Linked DNA regions of Homo sapiens. The protein of the gene in region 2 interacts with the protein of the main gene of each other region in a biochemical or structural test. Each region holds a gene or a part of one and is shown on either strand. Other genes may lie near its edges.

Region 1 (3,500 bases), on a different chromosome or scaffold from region 2:
CTTTTCTTTTCCTGACCATCTCCTTGTTTATTAGCTTAAAAGGAAAGTAGTTAAAGGAAAAGAAAACAAAAATCTTTCATTCAACAAATAAGTATTGAACATAGGCTGTTTGCTAAGGGCCAGGAGATACAATGGAGGCCAGAAAGACTGAGGCCCTGTGGTCATTGAGTCCTGGTGGGGATGTCAGACAAGAAACAAGTGAATACAATAATTAGAGATTGGATTGGAAGAAGTATGATGAAGGAAAAAAAAATGGGAGGATGGCACATGGCAGATACCAGCCAAGAAGCAAAGGGTATCATTAGCTTGGGTTATCAGGAAAGACAAGAGGAGATAGTAGTAAACAGAAACCTAAAGGACGAGAAGATGCCAGCCATCCAGATAGGAATAGTGTGTGCCCTGCCCTCATGGAGCTCACCTCCAGATGGAGAGACTGATGAGTTGGGAGAGCATAGCACTGCTCTCATTGATGTACTCTGTGCCTGCCCACAGCTAATGATGCCCTGGGATGAGTTAACCCTGCGGGAGGAGGTGTCCTGGGGAGGGGCCGTTGGAGCTGAGTTCAGAAGGTTGAACAGGAATTTGCTAGATCAGAGGACCATATTTTATTTGTATATATAATGTGTACACAGTACCAAACGAATACATTATGTGCCTTATAAAAAGTTACGTACAAAAGGGAGTATTTTAAATAATGAAATTAAAATATGACTATGAAGAAAATGTGAAGTATGTTCTCCTGCCATTCCAATGCATTGTGTTACACGCATTCACCTGTGAAGACCCCTGAGCTAGAAGAAAGCGGTTGGACGCTGGGGTTTTGCAGGGGTGGGGATTGGCGCTCATACAAGGCCTGGAGCAGGAACAGAGTTGGGAACTGGGGGAGCTGCAAGTAAGCAGAGTGTGGAAAGAGTTGAGGGATGGGCAGGGAAGTGGCCAGAAAGAGGCCTGGTGAAGAAAACAAGGGCTTGACCCCAAAGGGCCTAAGTCTTGAGTCTGGGATTTAAATTACCTAGGGCGGGAGTGGCCAACACATGGCTTCAGTTGAAGGGAATGACACAAAGAGATTTATGATTAAATTCCCTTTGCTTTTAGCCCATTCCACAGTTTCAAAAAGAAACAAACAATGGCTTATTATAAGAAACAACAACTTAATTATGTGTTTGCAGTTGTTAAAATGATGAACATTATCTGTCTTATCAAACATACATATAAAAAAGAACATTTTAAATGGTGAGACTAAATTGTAAATATGAAGGTAGATGGGGACAGGGATAATTCCCACTTTATTGAGCCCCAGGGATGTCATCACATGGTTGTATTTCTTGCATTCGCTCTGTGGAATTCTTAAAAAACTATAGAACCGCGTGAGGTTGGTATATTTTTATTTTTTCCTTTTACCAGTTGTCTGAGATCCCAGGCTGCATGTCATCATGTGCTGTTCTGATTTAGTCCTTGCTGCCAGGGGTCCTCCGTACTCTCCAGCCTTCGGAGGGACTGAGGGAGCAAACTGCACTCAAATATCTAGACATTTGGCTCCAGGAAGCAGCAGGGTCAGACTTGAGCCCGTGGTTCAGAACATGAGCCCATGTTCTACAACTTACCATCAAGAACATGTTTTGCCATTTAGCACAGATGAGTTGGCTGTTCCTTGTTTACATTCATAATTATTCCTCCACCCTTTGTTACCAGTTTTGAGAAACAACTTTAATAAATTAAGATTCACTTCACAATTAGGTGTTTCACAAGCTATAGCAAACAAAAGAACCCAAACCAAGAAGACCTATTCCCTGCCCCAGGTCTAAACCACACCAAAGCCTACTGTTGGAAATTGCTCAAAATGGAGAGGCCTGTGGCCAAGTGATTGTTGGGAAACCTACTGTGTTAAAGCCAGTGAAGATGGTGTTCAGTTTCCACACTCACCAGGTGCAAAATGACATTCCAACCCCACTGGAATACAGTTCTTCCCTGTGCTTATCAAAGAGCATGTCTAAGTTATTTTCTTTTTCTTTTTTACAAAAGGTGCTTTAAGTACAAGCCAGACCTGATTTTGTAGCTTGCATTAGTATTTTCAATTTATGTGGTCTTTTTGCAAGAACTGCCTGCATGGTCCCCAGAGGAAAATTTAATTCCATGTGCATGTGTTTGCCATAGTGTTTTTCAAAATTTGCCCTGATTAGCAGAAATAGCATCATGAAACCTGAATGTATTCTGCACTGTTGCCTGGAAAATCTGGCAGGTCATTGAGTACATGCTAAAAAGCCAAGATGAGCAACAATGCACACACGTTGTTAGTTACTAGAAGAATACAGTACAAATGATGTCTGTGTTTCCCAAGGAATTCCTGTGTTAGATGCTTGGTTGGGTTGTGAAATAGCCCAGCCATAGCTCTGACATAAGGCTTTTCATTGCATGATCAGTATGCAATACTCTTAGCAAAATCATATCATTCATTTGTTAGTCCTCATAACCCTAAAGAAACAGCAGCTAGTCTGTTGTATCAAACCTCTCACTTAAGCCTTTGGGAAGTGTACTTTATCGTTAGGTACCCTTGCTATGAAAACAATCCCCTTTCATTTCTCTCTTACTCAAGGCAGCAAAACAAAATAAATTCCAAGTCATATTAGTTCACCTTGATAAATAGCTGTAACTAACTCTCTTAGGAGAGGAGCCAAACAAACTAAGAATAAAGAGATGCCTTTTAAGAGAGAAATCTAGCTTTTTTTTTTTTTTTGAGACGGGGGTCTCACTCTGTCACCCAGGTTGGAGTGCAACGGCACAATCTTGGCTCACTGCAACCTCTGCCTCCCAGGCTCAAGCCATCCTCCCACCTCAGCCTCCCAAGTAGCTGGGACCATAAATGCTCGGCTAAATTTTTGTATTGCTAGAGATGGGGTTTCACCATGTTGTTCAGGCTGGTCTTGAATTCCTGAGCTCAGGCGATCCACCAGCCTCGGCCTCCCAAAGTGCTGGGATTGCAGGTGTGAGCTGCCATGCCTGGCCTGCTTTATGTGCTTTTTGCATCCTTCCCCACCCCTCACCACTGTCTCAGTTTAATCTCACTGCTGGTGTTTGTTCTTGCTTCTTCCTCTCTGATTTTTGCTTGAACTTTCTAGTACTCCTTAAGAGTTATTACTTATGTGCAATGTGGTATTTTGCAAAACAAACGAAAGCCAAAATCCTATCCCCTATCTCCCTCTTTCTCTCCAGCCAAGAAATGCAAAGTGGTTAAATCAGAGTAAACACAGATCTCTTTTCATTTGATATATTGACATCACCTCTTAGGGAACTCAAGCTTGTTCATAAATCTTTTGTGGTCCATTGAGACTCTTCAAGTTCATCTAGTGGAATATTCCATAGCCTGAAATGTTGGACTTCTGAATTCCTGTGTGTTTTGAGTTTTCTCAGTGGGAGACAATATTGCACACAGAGCATGTAATGTGCAAGAGGATCCGCTTCGCCTCAGTTTGAAACTGAGCCATACCACTTTTTAGCTGTGT
Region 2 (3,500 bases):
TTTCTTTAAATGTTGGCTTTAAAGTGAGGCTGCCTATAAAGCCAGTGTGAAAATTACAGCAATTCACCCACCTATGAGACTTCCCTTAGCGACGTGGAATTCATTCTTGCCCGAGGAGATCCAGACACCGCTGTTATTGACCCCGAGAAGGCTTGGCTGGCACTGAAGCTGCTGGGACCAAAACGCCATGCGCAGCTTATCTGCCACCTTTTCTACGGGGGCTTGGGCTGCTGTGGCCACCGAGTGAGTGGCATGGATTATCGTCTGAAATAAGCTGCACTGGTCAAACACCACATAGTCCGTGATGCTCACCTGGAAGGAGGAGACAAGCAAAAGCCCTGCTGTCAGAGCAGTTACAAGTGTAGACTCTCTGCCTTGAGGGAAGGTTCTAGCTCAGGTCCACACCTCTGCATTTCTAGTAACAAGATGACCATCCAAACACAAATGTGCACGTGTGCGCTTGTGAAAGGACCAAAAAAATGTGGCAGGATGCCATCAAACTGCTAATGCTAACTCCAGCTCCTTCGTAGGGTTGGATTTAAAGGTATGGAAGAATATATTCACATTTTATATACTTTTATACAACATGGATCTGTTACAAGCATGTATTACTTTTGTGATTATCACCCCCTCACACCCCTTCTAAGAAGACTTTCATTCTAATCAGAGTGAGAAAGAATAATTTTGCCATCTTTTCTGAGACAGTCTTGCTCTGGCATCCAGGCTGGAATGCAGTGGCACAATCATACTCAGCCTTGACTTCCAGGATCAAGCAATCCTCCCACCTCAGCCTCCCAAATACAGGCGAATGCTACTACATGTAGCCAATTTTTAAATTTTTTGTAGAGACAGGTCTCCCTGTGTTGCCCAGGGCTGGTCTTGAACTTCTGGGCTCAAGTGATCTCCCTGCCTTGGCCTCCCAAAGTGTTGGGATTACTGGCATGAACCACTATGCCCAGCTTTAATTTTGCTTTTAAATCAGGTATTTCCAATGGACAACAGTATACGGTACTTAGAAACATAATATGCATCTAAAAAGGTATCACAAGTAGAGTGATGAACTTTTTTTTTTTTGAGACATAGTCTTGCCCTGCCACCCAGGCTGGAGTGCAGTGGTGCAATTTTGGCTCACCGCAACCTCTGCCTCCTGGGTTCAAGAGATTCTCGTGCCTCAGCCTCCCGAGTAGCTGGGACTACAGGCGCACGCCACAACAGCCGGCTAATTTTTTATATTTTTAGTAAAGATGGGGTTTCACCATGTTGGCCAGGCTGGTCTTGAACTCCTGACCTCAGGTGATCCGCCCGCCCAGGCCTCCCAAAGTGCTGGGATTACAGGTGTGAGCCACCATGCAAGGCTGTGATGAACTAATTTATGATCTGAATTGGGACTACTAATAATTACTCCAGGGCAAGAGCATCAACTAGGACCATCCTGGGTATCTAGACTCTAACCCTAGCTCAGAAGGGTAGCTTGCTTCTATAACATTCCTGAAAAGCATTCATATACCTCAGACATTTCTCCAACCACCCCTCCCTGCAGGAAGCTCTTCTCTTCTTGGGCAGCTTGATATAAGGCAAATTCTTTATGAGTGAAAATCTGATTCTCCATGATGTTCACTCACATTTCTGCCCTGCTGGGTTTGATTACATAAAACATCACTGGCATAAATGCCCTACTCCTGGTCGGGCACAGTGGCTCACGCCTGTAATCCCAGCACTTTGGGAGGCCAAGGCAGGTGGATTACTTGAGGTCAGGAGTTCCAGACCAGCCTGCCAACATGGTGAAACCCTGTCTCTACAAAAATACATATATGTATATTTTTACATGTATATGTATATATATGGTTACAAGTACACAAAAGGTATTTTAAAATCATTTGCATGACTATCAAATATTACCTAGTATATAAATTAGATACATCTGTATATAATGTACATATTATATAGAATACATATTTTATCAAAGAGTAAACACAACTCATTTTTCTACATTCTCATCTGAAAGACCTCAGAGCAGTCAATGCAAGACAAGCCTTCAACAAAGCAAGTCTGAGGTGACAATAAAACATAAACCAATGGGGCAAGATACTTCAGAAACATCAAATACTGGCCGGGCGCGGTGGTTCACGCCTATAATCCCAGCACTTTGGGAGGCTGAGGCAGGCAGATCACAAGGTCAAGACATTGAGACCAACCTGGCCAACATGGTGAAACCCTGTCTCTACCAAAAATACACAAATTAGCTGGGCCTGGTGGTGCGTGCCTGTAGTCCCAGCTACCCAGGAGGCTGAGGCAGGAGAATCGCTTGAACCCAGGAGGCGGAGGTTGCAGTGAGCCGAGATTGCGCCATTGTACTCCAGACTGGGTGACAGAGCAAGACTCCGTCTCAAAAAAAAGAAACATCAAATATTTCACGACCATCGACTATCAGTGAAATCTTACCTACCACAGTGGGAGACTGTGGGAGCAACACTAACACTAAACTATACCAAAGAAGGGGAAAGTAGACACTCCTTTGAAAATCCATTCTAGGGCCGAGGGTGGTGGTTCACACCTGTAATCCCAGCGCTTTGGGAGGTCAAGGTGGGAGGATTGCTTGAGCCAAGGAGTTCGAGACCAGCCTGGGTAACAGCAAGACCTTGTCTCTACCAAAATAATTAGCCAGGCATGGTGGCATGTGCCTGTGGTCCCAGCTACTTGGGAGGCTGAGGTGGGTCGTGATCCTGCCACCACACTCCAGTGTGGGCAAAAGAGTGAGACTCTGCCCCAGAAAAAAAGAAAAGAAAAAGAAAAGAGAAATTCATTCTAGGCGCTCTTGCTGGGACCAAATCACACACAGTGAGCTTGATTATACCCTCATCCTGTTTCTTATAGTGTTTCCTTTTCTGGAAGCACGTGGGAAAATTCTCCTGTCTTTGCTGAAATACCATCTACTTAGAGGCCTTCTGAATAAGCAGAGACAGCTCAATTTTAATTCTGGGTTGGGCTTTCAAACCTATTATCTGGGCTCTTTTCTCAGCACATTTGTTCATAATTAAACATCATTATTACCTAGGTCTTCAAATGGATGTCACTGGGTTTATTTAGCCTATAATAATAAATATATAAACAATATCAAAATAAATAAATTAAGTGCATTATTTACACAAAGAGTTTGCAAATTATTTCCTATGATGAAAAGTCCTTTATGTTTCTAATGCACTCAAACACAGCAAAGTCTAATCCATCAAATAGAAAAAAGGAATACTATTGGCTGGGAGTGGTGGCTCCACTTGTAATCCCAGCACTTTGGGAGGCGGAGAGGGTGGATTTCTCTCTCTCTCTCTTTTTTATTTTTATTTATTTTGAGACAGGGTCTAGCTCTGTTGCCCAGGTTGGAGTGTGGTGGTGTGATCTTGGCTGAAACCTTTGTCTCCTGGGCTCAAACTATTCTCCCACCTCAGCCTTCCGAGTAGTTGGGACCAACGGCGTGTGCCACCATGTCCAACTAATTTTTGTAT

The links.
Region 1: the proteins of TECPR2 (region 2) and PDZRN3 interact in a test that uses a peptide from one of them, tested with the Homo sapiens proteins (one large-scale study listed by IntAct).

Annotation. Positions count from the first base shown.
Region 1 is NC_000003.12:73,604,442-73,607,941, reverse strand, and holds part of PDZRN3 (E3 ubiquitin-protein ligase PDZRN3), read left to right. Parts: intron 1-3,500. UniProt on the Homo sapiens protein: E3 ubiquitin-protein ligase. Plays an important role in regulating the surface level of MUSK on myotubes. Mediates the ubiquitination of MUSK, promoting its endocytosis and lysosomal degradation. Might contribute to terminal myogenic differentiation.
Region 2 is NC_000014.9:102,446,441-102,449,940, reverse strand, and holds part of TECPR2 (tectonin beta-propeller repeat-containing protein 2), read right to left. Parts: intron 313-3,500; coding exon 72-312; intron 1-71. UniProt on the Homo sapiens protein: Probably plays a role as positive regulator of autophagy.